7 separate regions of the Homo sapiens genome follow, and regions 1, 2, 4, 5, 6 and 7 are each linked to region 3. Evidence: fine-mapped QTL for protein levels in blood plasma. Region 3 holds a variant in brackets. A gene starts in each other region. All regions are shown on their reverse strands. Region 1 holds the start of ICAM3 (intercellular adhesion molecule 3). Region 2 holds the start of TNFRSF21 (TNF receptor superfamily member 21). Region 3 has its middle 14 kb from the start of ASGR1. Region 4 holds the start of DPEP1 (dipeptidase 1). Region 5 holds the start of LY75 (lymphocyte antigen 75). Region 6 holds the start of CD86 (CD86 molecule). Region 7 holds the start of CD33 (CD33 molecule).

Evidence for each region. PIP is the chance, under the fine-mapping model, that this variant and not a neighbour inherited with it causes the effect. The UK Biobank Pharma Proteomics Project read protein levels with antibody pairs (Olink). The fine-mapping took linkage between variants from a reference panel, not from the people measured, so its PIPs are less certain.
Region 1: it holds the start of ICAM3, and the variant in region 3 is fine-mapped to the plasma level of the ICAM3 protein (UK Biobank, PIP above 0.99).
Region 2: TNFRSF21 starts here. The variant in region 3 is fine-mapped to the plasma level of the TNFRSF21 protein (UK Biobank, PIP above 0.99).
Region 4: DPEP1 starts here. The variant in region 3 is fine-mapped to the plasma level of the DPEP1 protein (UK Biobank, PIP above 0.99).
Region 5: it holds the start of LY75, and the variant in region 3 is fine-mapped to the plasma level of the LY75 protein (UK Biobank, PIP above 0.99).
Region 6: CD86 starts here. The variant in region 3 is fine-mapped to the plasma level of the CD86 protein (UK Biobank, PIP above 0.99).
Region 7: it holds the start of CD33, and the variant in region 3 is fine-mapped to the plasma level of the CD33 protein (UK Biobank, PIP above 0.99).

The regions. Positions count from the first base shown.
Region 1 is chr19:10,337,702-10,341,767 of GRCh38, reverse strand. ICAM3 (intercellular adhesion molecule 3) reads left to right here and starts at 2,144. Exons shown (of 7, transcript NM_002162.5): 1 at 2,144-2,229; 2 at 2,820-3,086. The coding sequence starts at 2,154. RefSeq lists enhancers at 546-1,293, 1,294-2,041, 2,135-2,184, 2,405-2,504, 2,790-3,538.
Region 2 is chr6:47,307,516-47,311,581 of GRCh38, reverse strand. TNFRSF21 (TNF receptor superfamily member 21) reads left to right here and starts at 1,677. Exons shown (of 6, transcript NM_014452.5): 1 at 1,677-2,166. The coding sequence starts at 2,071. RefSeq lists enhancers at 1,415-1,709, 1,661-1,840, 2,004-2,726 and a silencer at 1,981-2,210.
Region 3 is chr17:7,163,745-7,167,810 of GRCh38, reverse strand. No RefSeq gene overlaps it. Among named protein-coding and RNA genes, the nearest start is that of ASGR1, 14 kb to the left of the region's middle. The variant C/T (reference allele first, on the strand shown) is at 1,718.
Region 4 is chr16:89,611,783-89,615,848 of GRCh38, reverse strand. It overlaps DPEP1 (dipeptidase 1), which reads right to left and starts at 2,207. Exons shown (of 11, transcript NM_001389466.1): 1 at 2,130-2,207. RefSeq lists enhancers at 1-338, 339-1,043 and a silencer at 2,449-2,607.
Region 5 is chr2:159,903,226-159,907,291 of GRCh38, reverse strand. It overlaps LY75 (lymphocyte antigen 75), which reads left to right and starts at 2,536. Exons shown (of 35, transcript NM_002349.4): 1 at 2,536-2,703. The coding sequence starts at 2,610. LY75-CD302 (LY75-CD302 readthrough) reads left to right here and starts at 2,536. Exons shown (of 38, transcript NM_001198760.1): 1 at 2,536-2,703. The coding sequence starts at 2,610. RefSeq lists silencers at 2,334-2,575, 2,345-2,804 and enhancers at 2,985-3,064, 3,205-3,254, 3,475-3,524, 3,575-3,624.
Region 6 is chr3:122,053,528-122,057,593 of GRCh38, reverse strand. It overlaps CD86 (CD86 molecule), which reads right to left and starts at 2,232. Exons shown (of 7, transcript NM_175862.5): 1 at 2,091-2,232. The coding sequence starts at 2,104. It also overlaps a transcript of ILDR1 not described here.
Region 7 is chr19:51,223,302-51,227,367 of GRCh38, reverse strand. CD33 (CD33 molecule) reads right to left here and starts at 2,288. Exons shown (of 7, transcript NM_001772.4): 1 at 2,213-2,288; 2 at 1,770-2,150; 3 at 1,287-1,565; 4 at 1,012-1,059. The coding sequence starts at 2,249. All of the region lies in intron 2 of LOC107985327 (a long non-coding RNA gene), which reads left to right.

The sequences.
Region 1 (4,066 bases), not on the chromosome of region 3:
GTGTACCTGTGGTCTCAGCTCCTAGGGAGGCTGAGGTGGGAGGATCACTTGAACCCAGGAGGCTGAGATTGCAGTTAGCTGAGATTGTGCCCCTGCACTCCAGCCTAGGCGACACGGTGAGACTCTGTTTCAAAAAACAAAAAAGAAATATGACTTATTTACAAATATTTCTTTCTTTTTTATTTTTAGAGACAGGGTCTCACTATTACGTAAGTATTATAAATTATATATATATGTTTGTTTGTTTGTTTGTTTTTCTGAGACAGAGTCTTGCTCTGTCACCCAGGCTGGAGTGCAGCGGCACAATCTCCACTCACTGCAACCTCCGCCTCTTGGGTTCAAGTGATTCTCCTGCCTCAGCCTCCTGAGTAACTGGGACTACAGGTGCCCGCCACAATGCCCAGCTAATTTTTTATATTTTTGGTGGAGATGGGGTTTCACTGTGTTAGCCAGGATGGTCTCGATTTCCTGACCTCGTCATCCACCTACCTCAGCCTCCCAAAGTGCTGCTAGGATTACAGACGTGAGCCAGTAAGTCCGACATCTTTTTTTTTTTTTTTTTTTTTTGTGGAAACAGGGTCTCACTGTGTCTCCCAGGCTGGAGTGCAGGGGCACAATCTCGACTCACTGCAGCTTTGACCTCCCAGGCTCAAGCGATCCTCTCACCTCAGCCTTCCAAGGAGCTGGGACTACAGGCACCAGGCCCATGCTACTGGTCCCTGCTGTTTACAAATACACTAGACTTGGGTTTTAGCTGCTCTCTCAACACCAGGTGGGAAATGGATTGTTCGGAAGGTAGAGGAATAGAGGAGGGACCTGCTTAGGAAGGTGGGGGTGCTCTAGATGAGAGAGGAGGTGCTGTGACCTCAAGGTCTGGGGAAAGTGGGTGAGTGCAGGGCCCCATCAAGGCTCTCAACAAGGCCTCTCTCTCTGGAGCTCAGATGTGAAGCCCAGAAGGCAGGTCAGAGGCCTGAGGTCAGAGGCAGGTCAAAGGTGGGGGTCCCACCTGGTCCCCTTGGCGCCTTCCCTTGGAATGCAGTGACCAGCTGCCTGGAAGGGTGGGCAAGGGGACAACAGGATGGGGTAAAGGCCAGTTACAAGTAGAATCCTGGAAGGCCGGGCGCAGTGGCTCACGCCTGTAATCCCAACACTTTGGGAGGCCAAGGCGGGCAGCTCACTTGAGGTCAGAAGTTTGAGACCAGCTTGGCCAACATGGTGAAACCCCGTCTCTACCAAAAAGTACAAAAATTAGCCGGGCGTGGTGGCACATGCCTGTAATCCCAGCTACTCGGGAGGCTGAGGCAGGAAAATCGTTTGAACCCGGGAGGCAGAGGCTGCAGTGAGCCGAGATCCCGCCACTGCACTCCAACCTGGGTGACAGAGTGAGACTCTGTCTCAAAACAAACAAACAAAAACCAAGTAGAATCCTGGATAGACAGTGGCTCAGGGACTCAGCTGTCCCCAAATCACCTACCTTAGCTCTTTGTGCAGGGGATGGGGGATCCCCAAGATCTTCAAAGATAGGGAGGTATCCTCAAGATCTTCAAAGGTGGCCAGGCGTGGTGGCTCACGCCTGTAATCGCAACACTTTGGGAGGTCAAGATGAGAGGAGGCCATCTTAAGGCCAGGAGTTCAAGACCAGTCGGGGCAACATAGCAAGACTCTGCTTCTGTTTCTGTTTTTGTTTTTGTTTTTTAATGTTTCCTCGAAATCCCACCTTAACATCTACACAATGGTGCCTACAGTTTTCCCCATTAACTTCCTCTCTGGGGACAGAATATTCCCCTACCCACCTAAGTTCAGCCAGAAGGAGATGCCTCATCCCCCCCACCCAGGCTTCCCAGTGCTGAGAACAAAAGAAACCAGTTTAGTTAGCATTTCCTGTGAATTCAAATGGGGGCCAGCAGTGCAACTGGGACCAGCCCATTCCCTGGGGGAGACTCAGCAGTGCTGGCCACTTTGCAGAGCCCCGTCTGGGTCCCCCACCCTGGCCCCCAAGGGCCACAGCATCCCCTTCCACCCACAGGCCTGGGCAAGGTGCAGTCCCCAGACTTCTGCAATCTTAACCGCTGTGCTTCCGTCGCAGTGGGAGGCCCCGCCTTTTCCCCTGCCTGCCCTTCGGGCACCTCAGGAAGGCACCTTCCTCTGTCAGAATGGCCACCATGGTACCATCCGTGTTGTGGCCCAGGGCCTGCTGGACTCTGCTGGTCTGCTGTCTGCTGACCCCAGGTGAGACCAGTCAAGCCGGGGAGGGCTGGAGAGGGCTGCGTTTTGGGGATCAGTAGAGGGTAGAGGAATAGAACGCAACGCTGTTCACATCCTGCCACACTGCGACCTGGCCGCTGACTCTGTATCCTCGGGAGAAAGTTCTGGTTCCTTAGTTCAGCCTTCAGGTGGTCAGGCCCCAGCATAGGCTTGTACGCCATCCCTCTCCCCTAACACACACACACACACCCCTCATGCTTCCTGCTCCATCTGAACTCCTGAAATTTGCCCTTTGCGTATGTGCTTCCCTCTGCCAGGATCACCTGTCCCTTTCACTTGCTAACTCCTACTTAGCCTTCAGTTTCGGGCTGCAATGGTCCCCGCTTCCAGGAAGCCTTCCCTGACTCACCTCCTCCTATGCTGGATCAGAGCCTCTTCTGGCCTCCTTCTGAGTTCTCCCCGGTCTCTGATGGATTCTACCTTTCCCACTGGACCATGAAGGCAGGAACCCTTCTGTCTCGGCACAAGGAGAGAGGTGTTAAATGGTGGGGCCTGTTGATGCGTGGGTTGGGGGACAAGGAAACAAACACCAGGACTTCTTCATGTTCCTGAAGGTGTCCAGGGGCAGGAGTTCCTTTTGCGGGTGGAGCCCCAGAACCCTGTGCTCTCTGCTGGAGGGTCCCTGTTTGTGAACTGCAGTACTGATTGTCCCAGCTCTGAGAAAATCGCCTTGGAGACGTCCCTATCAAAGGAGCTGGTGGCCAGTGGCATGGGCTGGGCAGCCTTCAATCTCAGCAACGTGACTGGCAACAGTCGGATCCTCTGCTCAGTGTACTGCAATGGCTCTCAGATAACAGGCTCCTCTAACATCACCGTGTACAGTGAGTCGACGTGTCCGGAGGTGGGACTGGTCTTGGGTAGTGGTGTGGGCAAGTGGCCAATGGCTCAGGAGAGTGGGGACCCTCAGTTTGCAAAGAATGGACCACAGTTCTGACCCAGAGCTCAGACCTGGACATTTGTGTGTGAGATACAAAGATAGACAGAGACAGAGACACAGAGACAGAGACAGAGATATAGAGACGCATCTCAATCTCATGCCAAGGCAGCAGTTGTGAAATCAATTAACTTGGGCCCCAACAAGCATTTTTTTTTTTTTTTTGAGACAGAGTTTCGCTCTTTTTGCCTAGGCTGGAGTGCAGTGGCACGATGTCGGCTCACTGCAACCTTCGCCTCCTGGGTTCAAGTGATTCTCCTGCCTCAGCCTCCCGAGTGGCTGAGATTACACATGCACGCCACCACACCCAGCAAATTTTGTATTTTTAGTTGAGATGGCATTTCACCATGTTGGCCAGTCTGGTCTTGAACTCCTGACCTCAGGCGATCCGCCCACCTCAGCCTCCCAAAGTGCTGGGATTACAGGCATGGGCCACTGCGCCCGGCCCCAACAAGCTTTTTTTTTTTTTTGAGATGGCGTCTCTTACTCTGTAGCCCAGGCTGGAGTGCAGTGGTGCAATCTCGGCTCACTGCGACCTCTGCCTCCCAGGTCCAGCTAATGCCCAGCTAAGTTTTGTATTTTTAGTAGAGACGGGGTGTTCCGCCCACATCAGCCTCTCAAAGTGCTGGGATTACAAGTGTGAGCCACTGCGCCTGGCCCCAACAATAATCCCAACACTTTGGGAGGCCAAGGCAGGAGGATTGCTTGAGTCCGGAAATTTAAGACCAGGCAGAGCAATATAGGGACACCCCGTCTCTACAAAAATAAATAAAAAATATTAGCTGGGCATGGTGGCACATGCCTGAAGTCCCAGCTACTTGGGGGACCAAGGTGGGAGAATCGCTTGAGCCCAGGAGTTCAAGGCTG
Region 2 (4,066 bases), not on the chromosome of region 3:
AAATAAAAACGTATTTGAAGCTCCTCCTCCTCTTTAATACCTATGTAACTTCTTAAAAAAAAACAACCCAACCTTATAATAGTATTGGCCAGTCATTTGAATTTTTGAAGAAAAAATTGATACAGTTATGCATGAAAACACAGCATCTATCCCTCACTCTTTCAACTTCTGAAAATAGCTAGAGAGTGGCAAGTCCAACCATCATCCTTTCCCCAAAACTCCATAATTAATGGTAATATTTTCTAGAACTCCTTTGAATTTCACTAGAGGTTATATATTGTAGCTTTTTTCCCACTCTAACATTTATAGACAATACTGACAAATGTTTGAAATAATAGATTGGAATTAACCCTCATATTAATTTTAGCTTCTACCAAAGTGTGCATAGAGCAAAGAATCAAAGGACAACATGTTAACTAATAAAGCAAATAATTGGTACCTATGACTTAGCAAGTTACCTTTATTAGCACTGGGTGTTGGATCTTGAAACTGATAGTTTAAAAAGTGTGATTCTTTTGAAATGGGACCAAAGGAGCCTAGGATAAGCCCAGCACCATAGGGCTCCCAATTGAGGGGTGTGGACTGGATGGCTGAAGAGGTAATATCAATACAGTGTGCCATGTGCTGTCAGTACCTAGATGATGGATAACACGATACCAGAAATGGTGGCCACAGTCAGGAGACTCGGCCTTCCCCCAGGTGAAACAAAGAAAAGGATAACAGCTGCTCTCTTACATTCAGAAGTGTGTGAGATACCAACATCCACGAGAATATTCCAGTTCTCCTTCTGAAGCAGAATACTACCTATTCTACCACCCACATCCTGACAAGGCCTTTGGAAATCAACTCAAAAATTTTTAGCATTATTTTTTGGGGGAAGGGTGATTAAAAAAAATCTCAGGGATAATCCGATTCAAAACTCTTGATTTTTAAATTAGGAAAATGCATCTTTTGATACATTTCAAGGAGTTCAAAAGTCCCTCCAAGACCATCCATGGACCCAACACCAATGACTCTGGGTTTTAAATCCTTTTAGTTTGGATTTCCTTAATTGCATTCATAAGCCCATATTAAAATTAAAATATAAAAAATTAAAATCTTTGCCCCATATTAAAATCACCCTGAAAACTTAAAAAACAAACAAACAACAACAACAACAAACCTCAATGCCCAGACCAGATCCTGTCCTGTTCCAATTAAATCAGAGTCTCTAGAGGTGGGACCCAAGAATCAATATATATGTTTTGAACTCTCCAGGTGATTCCACAGGGCAGCAAAGTTTGAGAAGCAACACACAGGTCTCCTTTTTCGTCACGCAGTTGATCTAAGTGCTCTGTGGTCTATTCACCATCGCTCTCTGATTTAATCATCGTGTCCGAAACAATGGAAAGGCGTATGTAGCTGAAATAATTTAGTTGGAATTATCTCGGAAAAAATAAGTAAAGTTAGATCAGGAGTGAGATGCTTTCTCAGCGCTTTCCCTGGGTCAACAGGCGCGTGCAATTTCCTCAGCGAACGCCAAGGGGCACCCTCTCCCTCCCCGCTCTACCTGGAACGCCTTCGCCTTTCCAACCGCACAAAGAGCCCGGCCTCCTCCCGGGTGACATCACAAAGGGCCGGTCCCCCGCCCCTTCGGCGCCACCACGTGTGTCCCTGCGCCCGGTGGCCACCGACTCAGTCCCTCGCCGACCAGTCTGGGCAGCGGAGGAGGGTGGTTGGCAGTGGCTGGAAGCTTCGCTATGGGAAGTCGTTCCTTTGCTCTCTCGCGCCCAGTCCTCCTCCCTGGTTCTCCTCAGCCGCTGTCGGAGGAGAGCACCCGGAGACGCGGGCTGCAGTCGCGGCGGCTTCTCCCCGCCTGGGCGGCCGCGCCGCTGGGCAGGTGCTGAGCGCCCCTAGAGCCTCCCTTGCCGCCTCCCTCCTCTGCCCGGCCGCAGCAGTGCACATGGGGTGTTGGAGGTAGATGGGCTCCCGGCCCGGGAGGCGGCGGTGGATGCGGCGCTGGGCAGAAGCAGCCGCCGATTCCAGCTGCCCCGCGCGCCCCGGGCGCCCCTGCGAGTCCCCGGTTCAGCCATGGGGACCTCTCCGAGCAGCAGCACCGCCCTCGCCTCCTGCAGCCGCATCGCCCGCCGAGCCACAGCCACGATGATCGCGGGCTCCCTTCTCCTGGTGAGCGCTTGCGTGGACCGGGGGTGGCGGCGGCGCCGGAGCAGAAGGAACCGCTCTCCGGGAGCCGGGCGGGTCACCGGGCCGGGGCTTAGGGAGGCGCGGGGCCCGGCCGACTGGGTTACGGGCACTGAGGGGTTTCCAAGGGAAGGCAACACACCAGAGGGCCTCGACTAGGTTATTTGGGGGAATCTCAGGGCTCAGCCGGGGCTGGGGAATGAAGACGAATTGTTTTCCTTGCAGTCTGGCTTTGCTGGAGGAGACGCTAGAGGTAGCCGCCCAGCTTCTGCGCATTTGAGGGCTTTTCCCCCTACTCGGCCTACCTCGCGCTCCCCACGCCCGCAGCCACAGCCCCCCACCCATCGGCCACTGCCCCTCTGCGTGGTGTGGGGCCTCGCCGCGGTGTGGGGCTCCCACGGCCGGCCGAGGCCGGCGCTTTGTTGCAGCTGCAATGTCATGTCGGGATGCTACCGCAGTGGAAGACAGTGGTACCGGTGCGCGCCGGACACCGGAGACCTCCGGGTGCTGTCGCGCGGTGCATTCCCGAGCAGGGCGCAAGCCGCCCCCTCCTCAATCCCTTTACCCTCTCTCTTCCCTCTTGGCTCGGGTGGGGTCTCAGGTTCTGTATGCCGAAATATCACCCTTAGACCCACTCTCCGGCGCCTCCAAAGCGCCGGCTTCCAGCCAGCCAGCGCGCCGGCACTGGAATGGGGGGAGGGGGAAGGAGATGTGTGTGAAGGAAGATGAATTTTCTACAGTCTTTCCGATCCCTCGTTTACCTGTGGCTAGGCAGGTGACCCTGCAGGGTGGTGCAGTCTCCCTCATCGTCTAAGCTGCATCCACATCTCGGGTCAATCATCTTGACCAAAAACTTACCCTCAACTTCCCCCAAATTCCCTCCCTTTATTTCCAAATATTGGGGTGAAGGGGCAAGTTAGGTGGAAGAAAATTTGAGATCAAACCCTTGAGCTTCCCTTGCCTATCTTTTATCACTGCAGGAGGGATGGAAATTCTTAGCTAAAAACCGAACAAAAAAACCCCCAAGAAACAAGAGCTTGTTTTCACGACAGGGCTGTGTAAGGGAAAAGCAGGCTTGCTGTCTCCTTCCCCAAAAGGGCTTAACGCCTGGCCAGCCAAGAACTGCTTAGATCTCAGGACATTGCAGTTGCTATGGCCTGGGAATTCATCCTACAGACACTCTGGTTCCTTGTGTGTGTGTTTTAAGAGGAAGAGAGAGACTAAATAAAAGTTTGTTACTGTTAGCATTTATAATGAGGCAAGTCCCAGTCTCCCTTCAGAAACTCTTTTCTGCCCACTTATTAATGGCATGGCCAAGGTTTATATCTTTGAAACAAGTGAAACAAGTGTGGTGGATGGTAAGCAGTAGTCGGGGAGTCTCTTGGGACAATGAACCTGGATTGACAGTCTTGGTGTGGAGAGAAACACATCTAGGTCCATGGGAACACTGATCCTAGTTCAGTGGAGTGAGAACTATCATCATTTCCTTTTTCACAGCTTTAGATCCACTACTATCCACTACTATGTTTCAGGTGCTTCTAACACATCTGATTATTATATGCCTCACAGAGTCCATTCCCAGATTAAATCTTAAGTCATTGTGCAATACTCCATTTATTTTACCTTTTAGCATGAGGTAGGTAATTAAACAAAGGTCTTGATGTAATCAAATGGTAGGTTGCCTTAACTAACTGAGAAAGGGCCCAGCTCCTTTTCTTGAATCATCAGGCTAGGCACCCTGGCTTATGCCTGTAATCCCAGCGTTTTGGGCGGCCAGGGTGGGAGGATTGCTTGAGTCCAGGAGTTCGAGATTTGCCTGGGCAACATAGTGAGACCCCATCTCTACAAGAAATTAGGTGGGTGTGGCGGTGGTGTGCGCCTGTAT
Region 3 (4,066 bases):
TAAAAACACAGGATTCTATTTTGTAGAGAAGGAGTCAGTAAACTTTGGCCCTCACCTGCTTCTGTAAATAAAGCTTTCTTTTTCTATTTTTTTTTTTTTTTCTGAGACGGAGTCTCTCTCCGTTGCCCAGGTTGAAGTGCAATGGCACAATCTCGGCTCACTGTAACCTCTACCTCTCAGGTTCAAGCAGTTCTCGTGCCTCAGCCTCCCAAGTAGCTGGGATTACAGACGTGCACCACTATGCCCGGCTAATGTTTTGTATTTTTTCTTTTTTTTTTTTTTTTAGTACAGACGGGGTTTCACCATGTTCGCCAGACTGTTCTCGAACTCCTGGCCTCAGGTGATCTGCCCATCTCAGCCTCCCAAAGTGTTGGGATTACAGGTGTGAGCCACCACACCTGGCCAGTTTTTTTTTTTTTTTTTTTTTTTTTTTTTTGCAACAAGGTCTGGCTCTGTCGCCCAGGCTGGAGTGCAGCGGCGTGATCTTGACTCACTGCAGCCTCTGGATCTTGACTCACTGCAGCCTCTGCCTTCCAGGCTCAAGTGATCCTCTTGCCTCAGCCTCCCAAGTAGCTGGGATTACAGGCGCAAGCCACCATACCCTGCTAATTTTTGTATTTTTTTGTAGAGACGGGGTTTCACCATGTTGCTCAGGCTGGTCTTGAACTCCTGTGCTCAAGTGATCTACCCGCCTTCGCCTCCAAAGTGCTGGGTTACAGGAATGAGCCACGGATCCCGGCCTGTAAATAAAGTTTTATCGGAACACAGCCATGCCTGTTTGTTTACATGTCATTTATGACCACAGCAACAGCAGAATTGAGTAGTTATGATAAAGACTGTATGACCTGGTAAGCCTAAAATACTTGCTATCTGGCCCTTTATAGGAGATGTTTCTGGACCTCTGGTGTAGCAAGAAGGGGATAATTGGTATTAGGGGTAATTAGAAGCCTCCGTTATAGTGCTATTATTGCTGTTCAGCATCATCCTGGGCATGGTAGCCAAACTGCACAAGACAGAAAAAGACATTAAAAGTTGTAAGAATTGGAAAGGAAGAGATAAAACAATATGCTCACCTATACAGAAAATCAACACCATCAACAAACAAACAAACAATTCGACCTAATAAGAGGCTTCGGCAGGTGTATTAGTCTATCACCACAATAACACATGAAGAACATACAAGAAGAAACTTAAATTCTTTCCAAATTAACATATACATTCAACGCAATAAAAATAAAATTTCAATTGATTTTCTTTTTGAGATGGATTCTCCCTCTGTCACCCAGGTGGGAGTACAATGGTGTAATCTCACCTCACTGCAACCTCCGCCTCCAGGTTCAAGCGATTCTCCTGCCTCAGCCTCTCAAGTAGCTGGGAGTACAGGTGCCCGCCACCACGTCCAGCTAATTTTTGTATTTTTAGTAGAGATGGGGTTTCACCGTGTTGGCCAGACTGGTCTTGAACTCCTGACCTCAAGTGATCCACCTGCCTCAAACTCCCAAAGTGCTGGGATTAGAGGAGTGAGCCACTGCGCCCGACCTCAATTGGATTTTTAAAAGCAATGCAACAACTTTAAAAAAAATATATGTGGCAAGATAAAAGTCAATATGGGAAAAAAAGGAGAAATTGGAGGAAGGGGGAACTAGCCTTATTAGACTTTAAAATATATTACAAAGCCATAGTAATAAAAATAGCACAGTAATGATACAAGAATAGA[C/T]GGATAAACCAATGTTATAGAATAAAGAGCCGAGAGACAGAACTGTGCCTACATGGGAACTTAATATACAATAAAGGTAACATCTCAAATTGGTAGAAGAAAGACATTATTGGGAAAACTGGCTCACTCTATGAAGATAAGTAAAACTGGATTCATACCTAACATCACAGGCAAAGGTGGATGTTGGATAGATTGAAGACCTAAACATATAACATAAAATTACAGAACTAGTAGGAAAAAAGAAAGAAAGAAAAATCTATACTACTAAGAGTATAGAAGGGTTTCTTCTTCTTCTTTTTTTTTTTTTTGAGACAGAGTCTTGCTCTGTCGTCAGGCTGGAGAGCAGTGGCGTGATCTTGGCTCACTGCAACCTCTGCCTCCCAGGTTCAAGCAATTCCCCTTCTTAGCCTCCTGAGTAGCTGGGAATACAGGCATGCGCCACCACGCCCAGCTAATTTTTCGAATTTTAGTAGAGACGGGGTTTCACCCTGTTGGCCAGGCTGGTCTCCATCTCCTGACCTCATGATCCACCCACCTTGGCCTCCCAAAGTGCTGGGATTACAGGTGTGAGCCATCGCGCCCGGCTGAAGAGCTTGTTAAATAAGGCCTCCGAAGCACATTCCAAAAAGCCAAAAAAAATTTGTGAAATTGCATGAAAATGATAAATTTCAGTTCAACAGCAATGTATCAGGTAGGCTCCCAGCAAGCAACAGATGGCACACCCAAAAATGGGTAAGTGCAAGATTTCATAATATAGGGACTCTCTGCAAAGGTGTGAACAGGCTTAGGGAAGCCACAAGATGGAGCAAGAACCTAGGCATCCCAGAGTGGGGAGCTGTTACCACCTCCAGGACCGCAGGGAGAGGGCCTCCCAACAGGAGCTGTGATACTCAGTTGCAGGGGGCAGCTAACCCACAGCCACTCTACAGGGAGGGGCCGGGGAGTTAATATCCTCACTTCCCTCTCTTCCTGGAAGAGGGCTGGAAGCCAGATGGCAAGGGAGCGATTTGATGCAGTCATACAGCTCAGCCTCCCAGGCCACAGAACAACATGGAGAAGGATAGAGTGTGGATCTGGAAGGACAAATGGAAGACATTCAACACAGAAGGAGACCAAGATGAAGAAATACACAGGAAACCTATTGGAAAAGTGGCATCAGGTATAAACAAGCAGTTCACAGATGAGGAAGCCTGGGGTTCTAATGTGCATATGAAGACATGTTTACAATCACTAGTGACTAACTAGAGAAATCAAACACGAGTGAGCCATCTGTTTACACCCATCCAATTGACAAACATTAAGAGGAAGTCAATTGCTGCCAAGGTTGTGGGAGAAGCTGCTGATGGGAGGATAAATTGGAATAGCCATTCTGCAAGATATTTACTGGAATTAAGAATACATAGTATCAGGACGGGCACGATGGCTCACGCCTGTAATCCCAGCACTTTGGGAGGCCGAGGCGGGTGAATCATGAGGTCAGGAGTTCGAGACCAGCCTGACCAACATGATGAAATCCTGTCTCTACTAAAAATACCAAAATAAGCCGGGCATGGTGGCGTGCGCCTGTAATCCCAGCTACTCAGGAGGCTGAGGCAGTAGAATCGCTTGAATTCGGGAGGTGGAGGTTGCAGTGAGCCGAGATCGAGCCATTGCACTCCAGCCTGGGCAACAGAGGGAGACTTTGTCTAAAAAAAAAAAAAAATGCATATTATCGGCCGGGCATGGTGGCTCATGCCTGTAATCCCAGCACTTTGGGAGGCCGAGGTGGGTGGATCACTTCAGGTCAAGAGTTCTAGACCAGCCTGGTCAACACAGTGAAACCCCGTCTCTACTAAAAATACAACAGTAACAACAAAAATTAGCTGGACTTGGGGGCGGGCACCTGTAATCCTTGCCACTTGGGAGGCTGAGACAGGAGAATCGCTTGAACCCAGGAAGCAGAGATTGCAGTGAGCCAAGATTGTGCCATTGCACTCCAGTCTGGGTGACAAGAGTGAAACTCCGTCTCGAAAAAAAAAAAAAGATGATCCCTGAAAATCCTACTTCCAGATACATACACCAGAGAGAATCTCTGACAGGTCCATTATGGGGCACTGTGAAGATGTTCACTGCAGTGCTGTTTGGGTAGCAAGGAGCTGGAGGCAGCCTGGGTGCCTACTGAGAGCAGAATGCGGGAAACATGTCTGATGGGCTACTATCCAGCATTTAGGACTCGCCTGTAATCCCAGCACTTTGGGAGGCCAAGGCAGGCGGATCACCTGAGGTTGGGAGTTCGAGACCAGCCTCACCAATATGGGGAAACCCCGTCTCTACTAAAAATACAAAAAATCAGCCGGGCATGGTGGCAGG
Region 4 (4,066 bases), not on the chromosome of region 3:
ACAGCCCACTCCTCTCCAATTCACACCCCACCAGCCGGCCAGGACCCCGGGGCCCCCGTGTTGACCGCCTGCCTGGCTGCTGCAGCTCCTGCCCTCTGGTGGCCAAATCCCAACGTGCCTCCGTGGGGCCGGTTCCCGGCTCCAGTTCACCGGGGCCTCGCGGGGTCCTGCAAGGCGGGGTCCTGGGGGCTCACTTCACCCAAGAACCAGCTGCTCCTCCCTCAGGGTGGGCTCTGCCTGTGGGCTCTGAAGACCTGGGAAGGCTGAGCAGGTGCTCGGAGCCACCACTGCTTCCATGGGTGTCCTGCCCTTTAACCCACGCCCTCACCCCTGAGAGCAAGGCTGCTGTTACCCCTGTCTCCTACTCTTGGAAACTGAGGTAGAGAAGACAGGTCCAGCCCCCTGGCTCATGGGAGATGGAGCCAGGATGTACGCACAGGACACAGGTCCAGAGACTCCAGAGCTGCGTGTAGACCAGCACCACTGCCCTGCCAGGCCCGCCTGCCCGCTCTGTACCCAGTGGGAGCTGGGAGCCTCAGCCCGACCTGTGAGGCCACCCCTCAGGGGCGGCTCTGAGAGGCCGCTTTGGGGCTCAGTGTCCGTCCACCGCAGCCTACGTCCCCCTGAAGCTGCAAGCAGGGACTGAGGGACCCTCCCCGTCTGCTCCTGGCCTCCGACTGGAGATTTGTCAAAGCTGACCTTTTGTCGACAAGGAGACTGAGGCCCAGCGGGAGGTATTTTAGAGACACTTCCACGTTTGGAGGCCCTAGATGCCCCCTTCCACCCATGACACCCACTGAGCTTCTCCATGGGGTCAGACGCCAATCAGCAAGAATTCGCCAAGAGATGTGGAGGCTACTAGACCCTCACCATGAAAATAGCTTGGCTGTGTAAGAGCCATTGGCCGAAGTAGGTTCTGCCCTTCGCTAGCCCAGCCGCAGCTCCAGACTCCAACTTCCGCCTGTGCCCAAGGCTTTCTCTCTAGCATGTCCTGTGATAACCCTGAAGCTCCCCGCACCCTACCCGGGGAGAAGATTTTTCTTTTATTTTTTTGGATACGGAGTCTCGCTCTGTCACTCAGGCTGGAGTGCAGTGGCACGATCTCAGCTCACCGCAACCTCCGCCTCCCGGGTTCACGCCATTCTCCTGCTTCAGCCTCCCGAGTAGCTGGGACTACAGGCGCCCGCCACCACGCCCGGCTAATTTTTTGTATTTTTTATTAGAGACGGGGTTTCACCGTGTTAGCCAGGATGGTCTCGATCTCCTGACCTCATGATCTGCCCACCTCGGCCTCCCACAGTGTGGGGATTACAGGCGTGAGCCACCGCGCCCGGCCACAGCTTTGATTTTCATTCAGCAAATCCTTTCCACCTGGAAGGAAATTGTGGGGCCGGACAACAGGCCCTGCTCTTAGCTGGGCGGGAAGGCAGATGACTGCGCAGAGAATTCCAGAACAGAGAGTAAGTCCGGGGACTCGGCGCTCCTCACACAGCCTCTGAGAACTCTTCCTGGAGGAAGGGGTACGTGAGCTGAGTCCCAAGGGTGCCTAGGACCGCACTGGGCGCCACAAGGAAGGAACAGCCGGCACAGTGGACAAGCGGGGTTGTGGGGCCTCTGGAGGGCCTGGCGGGTCCAGACCTCATCCTAGGGACCACGGGGAGGGCCAGTGGGAGGACAGCGGCGGGTCTGAGAGCAGCTCTCCCACCTCCTTGAGTCCCAGGAAGCCGCCGCGTCCCCTGCCCCACACACCTGGCCCCAGTTTCCTAGAATCCCAGGAAGCAGCCGCGTCCCCTGCCCCACACACCTGGCCCCAGTTTCCTAGAATCCCAGGAAGCAGCCGCGTCCCCTGCCCCACACACCTGGTGCCAGCCTCCTAGAATCCCAGGAAGCTGCCTCGTCCCCTGCCCCACACACCTGGTCCCAGCCTCCTAGAATCCCAGGAAGCCGCCCCGTCCCCTGCCGCACACACCTGGCCTCAGCCTCCTAGAATCCCAGGAAGCCGCCGCGTCCCCTGCCCCGCACGCCTGGTCCCAGCTTCCACCCACAGTGGTGCCCTGGGGTCCCCGGGCCTGCACCACCCCAGGTGGGCACCCCAGTACCCTGGCGCACCGACTCCCCAGCCCACTCACCCTGGCCTCTGCGATGCAGACTTGCTCCCTGGCAGGGCCCGGCCTAGGCAGCTCCCACGCCAGGCTCACAGCTGGGCTGGCCCTACCCGGCCACCTGCTGCCCCTCCCAGGCCCCTCCTCAGGAAGGTGAAACTGCCCCATTTCCTGCAGGAACCCTGTGTTCTCTGAAAGTAGAAAGAGGAGGGAAATGGAGGAGGGGAGGGGAAGGTTGGAGAGAAAGGGCCAGGGGTCGGAAGGAAGGGCTGCAGGAGGGAGAGAGGAGGAGGGAGAGAGGAGGAGGGAACTTTGCTCCAGGAGATGGCTCTGCGTCCTGACCTCCCCCAAGGCTAGAAACTTCTCCAGCAGCTTCCTCATTTCCTGAGAGTGCCCTGAGATGTCCTGGCAGTGTTTTTCCCTCATGTGTGGATGTGCCACCTCCCAGCCAGGGGGGTGCGTGCACAGCTGTGCTGTCCAGCTCTGTGATGTCAGATCTTAGAGAATGCTACACATCAGTACACATAAGCCATCTGTGTCCTTTTTCTCATGCATTTTCGTTGTGAAAATACAACATGTATACCAACAAGACATATAGGTGTTGGGAGGGAAACTGAGGCAGGGCTTGCATGATGTCCTTTGGAATGTGTCTAGACTTGCTGGCTCCTTCCTTCTAGCCCTCCTAGGCCCCTATTCCCATTATCTCAAGTAGCAGAACATGCTCCATATAAATGCTAAACCGGCACAGCTGTAATCATGTGCTTAATGCAACGTGGTCTTTTGACCTCCATATTCTCACCATCTGTTTCTTTGTTGCATTACCAATAAATACCGTGGGCTCCCAGAGCTCGGGCTTTTGCAGCCTCCACAATAGCGATGGCCCCCTGGTGTGCCACCTTTCTCTCTCTGTGTTTTTCTGAATCCTTTGACTCCGCCGGACTTTGTCACCCCCACGACCTGGGGTTGGGTCTGATCACCCCAACATATAGGTACTGTACCTTTACACAGAAACTACACAGGTGTTCGTAGCAGGACAATTTAGTATAGCCAAAATGTGGGAAGAGTGCAGATGCCCAACACGGGGACAGATAAATGTGTCTCTTCACGCAGTGGAGTATTACTCAGCCATGAAGAAGAGTGACGTGCTGACACGTGCTATAACATGAAGAACCTCAGAAACATTTCGCTAAGTGGCAGAAGCCAGATAGTCGGGTGTGGTGGTGCGCACCTGTGGTCTCTGCTGTGAGGCTGAGGCAGGAGGAGCGCCTGAGCCTGGGAGACTGAGGTTACAGTGAGCTGCGATCACGCCATTGCACTTCAGCCTGGGCCGCAGAGTGGGAGCCTGTCTCAGAAAAGAAAGAAAGAAGCTAGACTCAAAAGACCACATGTCGTGTGATTCCACTTATATGAAATGTCCAGAATAAGTGACTCCATAGACACAGAAGGTGGATTCATGGTTGTTGAGGCTGTGAAGGAAAGTGGGGAGTGGGTGCTAATGGGAATGGGTTTCTATTTGGGGCAATGACTTTTTTTTTTTTTTTTTTGAGACAGAGTCTTGCTCTGTCGCCCAGGCTGGAGTGCAGTGGCGCGATCTCAGCTCGCTGCAACCTCCACCTCCTGGCTTCACGCCATTCTCCTGCCTCAGCCTCCCGAGTAGCTGGGACTACAGGCGCCCGCCACCACGCCCGGCTAATTTTTTGTATTTCTTTTTTAGTAGAGACGGGGTTTCACCGTGTTAGCCAGGATGGTCTCGATCTCCTGACCTCGTGATCCGCCCGCCTCGGCCTCCCAGTGTGATACCCAACCTTGTTTTAACCTAAGTGACCTTCTCGTAGCAGAGAGAGCGCCGGACAGACTCCATTTTAGTTTCTTCACCTGCAGCCCCCTTCACCTCCCTCCCTTAAGGCTTAACTAGTGTGACTGACTCAAAGCACGTCTGGGAATGCACCTACTGATAAGATACT
Region 5 (4,066 bases), not on the chromosome of region 3:
ACTCCATCTCAAAGAAAGAGAAAGGGTCAAATTGTAGAGGTACTTGCTTTTTGTCTTAGAGTTTTCTTTTTGTATCATGGGCTTCTCTGGGATTCTCATGAAAGCCTTGTACCCTTCCTCCTCCTCCTCAAAACATAGTGCATTTATAAAGCTGCATAAAATTTCAGGGTTTCATAATTTCCCTTAAGTAGCATTTAGGAGCTCCTGCTATATGCAAATAGCACTGAAAGGATTTGAGTAGAAAAGTGGCATGTTCCAAACAGTGTTTAGAAGGATTCATTTGCCAGAGAGGATAATAACTGTTGGCAGTGAGGTCAATTGATAAATTATTGCAATATAATGCAAGTAGGAGCTCATATGGCCCTAGGCTAAGGTGGTGGCCCTAGGAATCCATCCATCGATTAAACTAACATTTATTGAGAGCTGACTTTGGGACAGGCCCTGTGCCCAGTGTTGAGGATGTGATAATGAATACGGCAAGACCACTGCCCTCAAGGAGCTCCAAGCTGGGCAGGATCAGAAAGAAAGGCAGGCAGCCACAGAGGCAGAGGGGATCAGGTCAGTGGCAGGTTCTCCTACTCAGAACTTCCCACCATCTGTGCCTTAGAATAAATTCAAGGCCCTTCACAAAACAGACACAACTCACCTTTCTGCTGTCATTTCCACTGGGGCCCCCACCACAACCACTTTGATCTCTCTCACAGACACACCCCCCGCAGGGCAGCTACCCTGGACTCTGGACTGTCTTCTGACTCTGCTTGCATTTTCTGGCCTCTGCCCTGTCACTGGTTTTCTCCCACCAGCTGTGCCTGCTCAAATTCCTACCCATTCTTTAAGACCCAGCTAAGATGTTGCCTTCCCTCAACATTTGTCAGAGTTTCCCCATTCATTCTGCCCTGTGTCACTGAGTGTGCCTGTATTAGGGTTCTCTAGAGGGACAGGACTAATAGGATACATGTATATATGAAAGGGAGTTTATTAAGGAGTATTGACTCATATGATCACAAGGTGAAGTCCCACAATAGGCTGTCTGCAAGCTGAGGAACAAAGAAGCCAGTCCGAGTTCCAAAACCTCAGAAGTAGGGAAGCCAACAGTGCAGCCTTCAGTCTGTGGCCGAAGGCCAGAGATCCCCTGACAAACCACTTTTATAGGTCTAAGAGTCCAAAAGCTGAAGAACCTGGAGTCCGATGTTCGAGGGTAGGAAGCATCTAGCACGGGAGAAAGGTGAAGGCCAGGAGACTCAGCCAGTCAAGTCCTTCCAACTTCTGCCTGCTTTTATTCTAGCCATGCTGGCAGCTGATGAGATGGTGCCCACCCAGACTGAGGGCTGGTCCGCCTCTCCCAGTCCACTGTTAATCTCCTTGGCAACACCCTCACAGACACACCCAGGAACAATACTTTGCATTCGTTCATATCAATCGAGCTGACAATATTATCCATCACAGTGCCTCAGTCTCCCCAGTATTCAGGGGAGGGCAGAGATGTTGTCTTTTTGTCCTTCTGTTCCATGGCGTGCCCAGATCCTGTGATGGCAGGTGCTCACTATATCTATGGAACTGAAAGGCCAGACCCTGGGGAGAGGACAGAGCAGGTTTGGGAGCCAACTGTGAAACCTTGGCAGTGGGAGTCAGGAAGAGCAACCTAGGTCTTTGCATCCTCATGCAACAAGGATGGAGGCCACCTCAAGTACACATTATGTGCTCAGCAAAGACGAGATTTAAAAGTATAAAACATTCACATTTGAGCAACTTAGGTCATTAAGAATTTGGCCTCTTTATAATGATAGCAGTGTCCACAGGAAGAGAGTGAGTGGGACATGAAATTTCTGGTTCTGCATGCAGACTTCTACATTTCTACCAGCTAATTATTATTATCATTAAATTATTAAGCAAAGAGCTTACTCGCAAAGGTCAACTTTTTATAAAGCATAAGTCATCCTTGGAAGTGTCGTTTGGTCATTCTAGTAATTCTTGCTTTTAATTCTTTAACAACTATGGGTAGAACTGCAGTGTACCATTATTCCACCTTTGTTTGCACTGTCAAAATACCCAAGACGTTGCCAAGGACGACTGAATTCTTAGGCTTGGCCGCAGCCACCCACAGGGCAGGTGCTCACTTCCTCCTCCGGGGTAGAAGAGATCATGGGTCCCTTTCCAGTCCAGGCTGGAATGGAGAAGTCGTCCCTGACCACAGTGCGCCAGGCAGAGGCCAAGGTTCTAAACTGATAGAACCCACCCACCAGGGCGGTGCCAAGTCCCAGTAAGGGCCGCATCTCCCCAGCTTGGCTGATGAAGAGGCGGGGACCGAACCCTCCAGTGCAGGAGCCTGTCTGGTGCCTGGCTCTCCCACCGATCCGCACGTACCTCTTCCTCGCGGGTCCTACCCCACGCAGGTATCTAGCGCCCAGCCCTGTTCATTTCCCACACCTGGCCCGCTCCGCCCCGGGGCCGAGGAGACGCACGTCTGATTGGCCGAGGGCGGCGGGGGCGGGGCCGGGGCGCCCCCAGAGGCCTAGACAGAGGTGCGGGCGGGGCAGGCCGCGCTCAGCAGGCGGGGCGGGAGCCGCGTGCGCCCGAGGACCCGGCCGGAAGGCTTGCGCCAGCTCAGGATGAGGACAGGCTGGGCGACCCCTCGCCGCCCGGCGGGGCTCCTCATGCTGCTCTTCTGGTTCTTCGATCTCGCGGAGCCCTCTGGCCGCGCAGGTAACCGCGGGCACGCCAGCCCCGCAGTCCGCTGGGTGCCTCGACGCCACAGCTCTGCTGCCTTCCAGCCTGGGGCAGGGCTGCGCCCCTGGGGCAGGTCACGGCTGCTTTGCTGTTGGGGCGGGGGGGCTCTGGAGCCGGAAGAGTGAGTCGCAGGGGAGGTCTGGCAGAGGAAGCGCCCCAGTGCCCTCGGGGGCCCGGAGGAGGGCGCGGTGGATGTGGGAGGACAGGGCCCTTCTGGTGCAGAGGGGACGCGGTGCACCGTAGAGTAGGCGCACGGAGGCTTTTTTGGCCGGGTGCGCTGCTCCATCGTCGCCTCTCTTATATAATGTTGCTGGAGTATGGGGTTCCCCATCTGCCCTCTTGCGTCCCGTCCCTCCCGTTCTCGCTTTTCCTTCGGCCCTTGGTCACCTTGGCCACAGGGCCAAGAGGAGCCTCCACCCACAGCGCCAAGGATTCCCCACGATTCCCGGATTTCACTGCGCCTACGGTGCGCATCAGGAAGGAAGTCAGGTTAAATAAACCATCTCCTCCGAAAGTGACCAAGACCAAGAGTCAGCTATGATGCCCTCACCCACCGCCTAGAGCAACAAACCTTTCTTCTCATTGGTTTATCAGCTCCAAATGACCCCGCTCCCCCAAGGCTGACAGCCTCACGGTGAAGGGCAGGTCGCCTGCTTGGGGACCTGCTGCCTCTCACTGCGGAAGCAGGACCAGAAACAGACAGCCTTCATTGATGTTCAGGGTAGTGCCAGCCCCACCACACCACACCCCTTGGCAGCAACCGGTTGCTTTTACTTTCTCTTTTTGCCTGGGCGAGGGGTGTGCAGAGAACTTTGTTTCTTGGTTGGACTGCATCATGGGCACTCAATGGGCCACCCTCCACCGGCCACTTCTGTTATCGTGCCTGTATGAGGAAGGAAAAGATTGTCCAGGCAGTTTGAAAAACATTAAATTGTTGGTGGCTCTTATTTTCTTTGCAGCTAAGCTAAGTTACCATCTGGTTTAGACTTCCTTCGGAGAGCGATGGGAAGAGATTTCTCAGAGTGTGAATGGCATCATCCTATCTACAGCAAGGACCTGGAAATGAACCCTGCTCTGAGTCACACTTCTCTATTCTCCTTTGACCCTGTGTGCTAGGAACTACCAAAAGAATCCTTTAAAATAAGATCCTTTATTGCCTTGATAATTTATTCTGCCTGCCCCACAATCCAAGGTGGAAAAGTTCACTGCAGCAACTAACTACAGTGAAAATGCACTAACTTTTCAATCACTAACCTCTTGGTTCCCATCGACATCTGCTTCAGTCCTGTTTTTATCTCCTTCACAAATTTCAGGATTTCCCTAATTCTTGCAATCTCTG
Region 6 (4,066 bases), not on the chromosome of region 3:
TTTTTCTGCCTACAGATGGGATTCAAATTGAAAAGCACACAGTAGAAAATACAAACTACCTATATTTCTGATTAATATTGTTTGTATACATGTATCATGTATAAAAGTGATAGCACTGTTCGTTCTGCATTTTTCCCCTTTAACTAAACACATTATGAATTGTTCTACAGTGGAATTTTAAATAATTACATGGTATTCCATTATGGATGTTCCATAATCATCCAATCACTTGTTTTTAAACACGTAAATTGTTTCTAAGATTTTCCTTATTAGAAACAATAGCAAGAAAAATATCCATCACTAAAACTTTACAAACATGTATTATTATATCTTAGAATAAATTCCTAAAAGGTGAATTGCTTGGTTAAAGGGCATATACATTTTAAAGGCTTTTGATATGTATCACTAGATTATTGTCCAGAAAGATGATATCACCACTAGTGCGCAACTAGGGTACAAATAATCCTCCCTTCTTAGCAAGATAGAGGGTTCTTGATTGCTTGCTTTTTAAAACTTAATATTTATCTCTTTGATAGAGAAAAAATGATACTTCACTGTTGTTTTAATTTGTATTTATTTCATCTCTTATGAGAACAGACATTGTTTAATGGCTATTACTGGTTCATGACCAATCTTCAGGCACTGTGAAACAAAAGGAATCTTAACAAGTTCAATATAGACAGCAGCCTATGGTTTTTTAGACCTCTGCAGACAGTGCTAGCATAATTAAGTAGTATCCCCTCTATGGTACCACAAAAATTATAAATTTTGAAATTCTTTTTTTCTTCATACAAGTATAACGCTTCAAAATTCCACTGGAGCAAAAGGAATCTTTACTGGAAAATTAAATTTTAATCTTCTGAAATAAAAGCAACAAAGCTTTTTCTCAAACCAGTAAGCACTGGGTAGATGAAAGTTACTTCGATTTTCAAAGAACAGTAATTATAAATACATAGTGACGGCCGGGTGCGCGGTGGCTCACGCCTGTAATCCCAGCACTTTGGGAGGCCGAGGTGGCCAGATCACAAGGTCAAGAGATCGAGACCATCCTGGCCAACATGGTGGACCCCGTCTCTACCAAAAATACAAAAATTAGCCGGGCGTGGTGGTGGGCGCCTGTAGTCCCAGCTACTCAGGAGACTGAGGAAGGAGAATCGTTTGAATCCGAGAGGCGGAGGTTGCAGTGAGCTGAGATTGCGCCACTGCACTCCAGCTTGGCGACAGAGCGAGACTCTGTTTCAAAAATAAATAATTAAAAATAAATAAATACATAGTGACTGGCGCCAGCTGCCACCACCCAAGAGAAGGGCGGGTGTGACTCCTTCCAGGAAGTCTCCACAGCATGGAGAAACCTTCTGGCGCACCACGAAGCGGGCAGGAAAGATTTTAGCTCTACCCCTTATGAATAGTGTGAACTTGGGCAAGTTTTTTAAGCCACAGTTACCCCATCTGTCAAAAAGAATGATGATGTCTTTCCAAAAGTCATTGTGAAGAATAAAATTCAATGAAATAGCACTAGTAAAGTACCCAGCACATCATGCATGTTCAATACATGGTAACTAATTTAATCACTCTACCTCCTTCCACTACCCAACCCTGCCCAGAATCTCCCATGGCCTGATTATGACATATTAACTGAGTTTTGCATTTTCTCCTTATACCTCTTTTTTCTCTTTCTTTTTCTTGATCTCTCTCCCTCTACCTTCTCTATCTCATTCCTCCACCCTCAGACCAAACTGACCCTGGTAGACAAAAAACATATTCCCTGTTATTTGTCATTCTTATGCAGATATTTTAAAAATTCCTGATTCTTCACTAAAATCAATGACTGTAACATTCAGTATTTGAATAACAGATTTACAAAACCAAAATTAGGCACCTAAAAATATATATAACTACCACCAATGAACTGCTTTGGGCATTGCAAATAATTCTTGCCTTTATGTGCCAAAGATCTTTTGTAGAAAAAGAAAGCTTCTCCACTTAGGAACTAAGTGAAGGACACACATCAAAGCACCATCTTCAACCTCAGCCTTTCACTGCAGTCACAACTCATAACTTCTCTGCAAAGAATAAGAATTATTACTCACCACTGGGGATCCATTTTGGCTGCTTCTGCTGTGACCTAATATCTGGAAATGACCCCACTCATCCGTGTGTCTGTGCTAGTCCCTGTTACAGCAGCAGAGAAGCAAAGCTTTCACCCTGTGCAAGCCTTCCTCGGCAATGACTGTATACCTACCCAGCTAACTTTCTTTAAGAGAAGCTGTTCCTCTTTTCTCTACAGATTTTGACCACACTTGAGGAAGAAATTTAACCCTTTCCTTGCAGTTTAAACTCATTGACGTAGGTCTATATGTATTAAAGAATATATAATTCAGTAGCTTGAGTTCCAGACATGACGTTAAGATGAGCCTGAATAAAAAATCTCCCCTCTTGAAATTCCCTCAAAAAACCTAGAAAATAAAATAATTAGAAAGAGAAAACAAACCTCCGCAGCAACAAAATAGAATAAAGAGGCATTCTACAGATTTTGATAAGATAATAAAAAGTGATTTATTGTGGATGTGGATTGGGAGTGAGTAGCCACCTAACCCTGCCAATTTCCACAACCAAAGTGTGGAGAGTTTCACTGAGCTGGGGTGGGGGGATGGGAGATGGGGAGATGTTCTGTAAGGACTGCATAACCAAGGAGGGCAGACAGAAGCTACTGCTTTTATTATTTCATTCCTACTATAGCCAAGGATTACATTGATGAAAGCGAATATTCTGAAACAGAAGTCTGAAAAAAAGGCAGCATTATAAAATTAATAGATGTCCCTAAGAGACAAACATAGAATTAATCAAGCAGAAACTATACTAGAAGATATTTCCTCGTATGAATTAAAATGGGCATCATCTAGAAACTCAAACTGTTTAGTGTATCAAAGCAAAAGTTATGAAAATCGATTCTCATCCAGACAAATCATTTTGAACATTTTAAATTCCAAAGGCAAAGCTAAAAACAAAATGAAAACAGAATGACTACAGAGAAACAAAAAACAACTTGGCATCTTACTCAACCCTAAATGGCAAAAAACAACAGAACAATATCTGCAGAATTTTGAATTAGCATTATCTACCTAGATAAGATGCCAGTTAAGTGTCAAGTCAATAGAAATATGTCACCAAGCAGGCAAGAAAACAACAACTGCAACAGAAATACCACCACCAAGACAGCCTTCCTAAATAAATTATTTAAGGATATATTCCAGAATAATAAATGAATTAAAATAGCCTTAAAATGGAGAAGCCATGGCTGAAAACACCAGTGCTGAGCTTTAAAGCAAGTTAAACATGGAGAAATAAGGCTAAATAATTATAAATTAGTTTAGACCAAAATGCTAAATAAGAAAAACTTATTAGAAGTAGATTACATATATTATTTCAAGGAAGTTTAAAAATAGCAGATGACATCACTGCTAACTAGAGCAAGGAAGCAAAATCAACACAATTATTAATCTTCAAATAAGAAGATAGAACAATGATTATTTTATCAACTTTGATAATTTCATCTGGATTTGAGAATTTTAAAAAATGAAGACAGCAATAATATAAGTTATCTATCTTCAAAATTATTGCAGAGCAGGAGTGCAAATAAAATAGTATTTATAACTACATAACACATCAGAAATAAGATGAGATAAAAAAATCCATGTAAACCTCATTTGTTATAAATATTAAATATTAAAGGTATGGGATGTCATTTTTCAGTTTCTTGGTAGCAGTGTACACACTCAAATTTCCATTTCTTGGTATCAATGCATACACTCAAATTTTTATTTAAGATAGCATAAGCATTTTCTCCTGTTATCATAAACTTTTTAGTAGTCATTAAATAGTACATTAATAGTACATCAAGTATACACTGTGAAAGCTGGCTGTAATGGCACATACCTGTAATCCTGGCTACTCAGGAGGCTGAGGTGGGAAGATTGCTTGAACCCAGGAGTTTGAGAACATCTTGGGCAACATAATGAGACCTTGTCTCATACACACAAAAAAGGTATATATTGTAGTAAAATTA
Region 7 (4,066 bases), not on the chromosome of region 3:
GATGTAGAGAAGAGGGAACTCTTATATACTTTTGACCAGAATGTAAACTAGTATAACCACTATGGAGAAGAGTATGGAAGTTTCTCAAAAAACTACAAATAGAACTACCATATGATCCAGCAACCCCACTACTGGGCATTTATAGAAAGGAAAGGAAATCAGTATATTGAAGAAACGTCTGCACCTCAATGTTTATTGCAGCATTATCCACAATAGGAAGATATGAAATAAACCTAAGTGTCCAACAACAGATGAATAAATAAAGGAAATGTGGCGTATATACACAATGGATTATCATTCAGCCATAAAAAATAATGAAATCTTGTTATTCACTATAACATAGATTGAACTAGAGGACATTATGTTAAATGAAATAAGCTAGGAACAGAAAGTTGAATACCACATGTTCTCACTCATAAGTGGAAGCTACAAGAAGTTGATTTCATAGAAGTAAAAAGTAGAACAGAGAATAATAAGGGCTGGGAAGGTTAGGGGAACAATGATAAGGAGAGAGATTTGTTAAAGGATACTAGATTACACCTGGAAAGGAAGAATAAGTTCTGGTGTTCTATACCACTGTAGGATGACTATGCTTAACAATAATAGATAGCTTCAAATAGCTAGAAAGGGGATATTGAATGTTCCCAACAACAATGAAATAATAAATGTTCAAGATGATGGATATGCTATTACCCTGATCTGATTACTATACATTATTAGTATGGAAACATCACTATGCCATCCATAAATATGTACTATTATTACATATCAATTAAAAATAAAATACCCCAAGACATTCAGAGACAGGAGGGAGACAAAGAGCATTATTTGGATGGGCAAGGGGGAAGTTGCTAGTCATCCCCAAATATCCTTTTCCAAGGTGCCTGATGTCTACCCGTGTCTAACTGCAGGCCTTGCCTCTGAACATTTGACTCTGAAAGTCCAGATCTGACCAAACCTGACACAGACTCAATGTCAGTAACAGCCCCAGGCGGGGAGGCTCCTTCCTACCTGAGCCATCTCCTGGAAAGATACCAGTTGTTGGGTTCTGTGGAACATCTAGGAGAGGAAGAGAGGATTTCCTTCAGTTGGGGGTAGAGATGAGATAAGGGTAGGCATTTCCCCTTACTCCTGCCAGAAACCACAGAAATGCAGAAGGGACAGGGCTCATGTCCTTCTGGCTCCCGAACTCAGCCAGGCCTCCAGGACACTAAATGTCCCCAGCACCAGCCCATCCTGTCTCCCCTACACCCTCAGGGACCCCAGCATCCTGGCCCAGCACTTACAGGTGACGTTGAGCTGGATGGTTCTCTCCGTAGTCACACCAGCTCCAGCGAACTTCACCTGACAGGTCAGGTTGGTGCCGTGGTCCTGGGGCCGTGGGGTGATTATGAGCACCGAGGAGTGAGTAGTCCTGGGGCCCAGGGAGGTGGGGGCAGCTGACAACCAGGAGAAGATCGGGGGTGTTCCCTGCTCACAGGCCCAGGACACAGAGCAGGTCAGGTTTTTGGAGTGGCCGGGTTCTAGAGTGCCAGGGATGAGGATTTTGGGCCTGTGGGTCAAGTCTAGTGAGGAGAAAGAGGGGATGCAGAATCAGGAGGGAGGGTCCAGGTGAGGGCCTGAGAGAAGATCAACCTCTGGTCAAGCTCCCCCGCTAAGCACGACAGGCTTTACCCCTAAACCCCTCCCAGTACCAGGGTCCCATCCCAGCCCTGCCCTGCAGTACCCATGAACTTCCCTTGCGGCCACTTCTGAAGCCTGTGCCTCACCTGTCACATGCACAGAGAGCTGGGGAGATTTGTAACTGTATTTGGTACTTCCTCTCTCCATCCGAAAGAAGTATGAACCATTATCCCTCCTCCTGGCGTCTACGATGCTCAGGGAGCAGTTGTTCCTACTGGGATCCCCAAGGAGGCGGAATCTGCCCTGAGTCTCCTCCTGTACTTCTTGATCTAGCTTGTTTGTGGCCACTGGAGAGTCCCTGGATATAATGGCTCCTTCCCGGAACCAGTAACCATGAACTGGGGAGTTCTTGTCGTAGTAGGGTATGGGATGGAAGAAAGTGCAGGGCACGAGGACGCACAAACCCTCCTGTACCGTCACTGACTCCTGCACTTGCAGCCAGAAATTTGGATCCATAGCCAGGGCCCCTGTGGGGAAACGAGGGTCAGCTCGGCCCAGCCCGACAACCCCTCTCCCCACAGCCACTCACCTGCCCACAGCAGGGGCAGCAGTAGCAGCAGCGGCATGTCTGAGGAAGCAGCTTCCAGGGCTTCCTGTGTGAGCAGAAAAGAGGAAGGGAGTGGAGGGGAAGGACTACAGGGCCGGACAGGAAGCTGGGGAGGAGCAGGAGACCTCAGCCCTGCATGGAAGAGGAACCTCAGACCCACACATGCTCAGAGCTTGTCCCCTCCACACAGATTGACCCTCATGGGCCAGAGATGCCAGAGACCCGCCCAGAGATGGGAGGAGATGGAGCAGAATCTGAGTCTTGCCTTCCAGGAGCACCAGAGCCTGGATCAGTACCTTCAGGGCCATCTGAGACATGCGAACCCCATGTCTAAAGTCCTTCCACTCTGAGGTGCTTTTCTGTGCACAACTGTTTACACCAGGGCTGATCACTGCTGGCCTGGCCCGAGTCGCAGCCTCACCTAGATCCATGGGGTGTTTAGTCCAGCAGGATATAGGATTCTATAGGGTCCGTGTGAGTGTCTGGGGCAGAGAAACAAAGAAGAGTCCTAGGTAAAGTGAAGGTGGCAGCCATTCATTTATTCATTCATTCACTAAAGATATAGTGAGTGACAGAGCAGGAGCACCGTCATCTCGGAGAAACACTGCCTCTTTAAGTTCCAATTTCCTTTCTAGCCTCATGCATTTCAAGGAAATCACTTCTCTGCTAACTACAAGCAACCAGAAAGAGCAGACAGTGAAACACAGATAAGACAGCTCGGGCACAGAGGGAGGTAGGGGGAGAGTCTCTTGAGTTACTGCCAAACTTCACCCTCATACAATGGCCCTAGTAAAACAGTGGGCCTTAATAAGCAAATTCCTTTCCCTTCAGGTGCACTAAGATAGGGAAGCTAAAAGCAGACTCAGTGGGTATGCCTGTAGCTGCAGAAAGATGTATGGGTACAGACACACACCTCTCTCTCCCAGATAAGCACAACAAAGAGACTCAGAAGCAGTCCAAGTCTCTGATAAACTCTCCCACCCTAAATCCTTAAAAACTCTTAGTCTGTAAGAGAGTGTGCCTCTGACTTAACTCGGCCAGAAACTCCTCTCAGGTTTGTTTTCTCTAAAATCTGTCTTGACTGGTGAGCCACCATTCGTGTTTCTTTCCTCTTTCTTTAATTCTTACAGTGAGCCTTTGTGTATAGGTGGGGCTTGAGAAGAGATGCCACTGACCTGATTCCTGCCCTTAAGATACTCCCCATCCATAGCCTCATGTCCTCACCACACACACACATGCTGTCTGGCTTTAGAGCTGTGAAAAGTTGGGAATTTGCCATGTATCATGGTAGCATATTGGAAATTTTAAAAGAAATATGACTATAGAATTTTCCCCTGGCACCTAGTACACTGATTTGCACAGTGTCAATGACATCTCCAAAACAAGAACCATGCAGCATCTTCCTGTGAAACAAAAGGGAGAACACATGTTCTATGAACCAGTGCAGAAAAAACTTCTTTTCCATTCATGCTGCCATTTGGTTCAGTGTGGGCAGAAGCAAGTTTTTTTAGAGGCTCATCATATGGATCAACATTTTCTTTCATGTAAAAATCTGCTTCTCACAGTTAAATATGGCCCAAAGACATAATATTTCCAGACAACATGAGTGGAGTGTACAGAGAAAATTAAACTTTAGGTCCAGCTACATGGTTTTCCATATCACTCTGTGTAGTATGCATCCAGCAAACCGTTGATCCCTGGGACATATTAGTACTTGCCACCATACCTTTGTCAAATCTCTACACACAATAGTATCTAGATAACTCTTCATTCATCCTTACTAATAGAGAGGTAGCTGCATCCTCATTTGATATACAACAAATTAAGTCTCCAGTA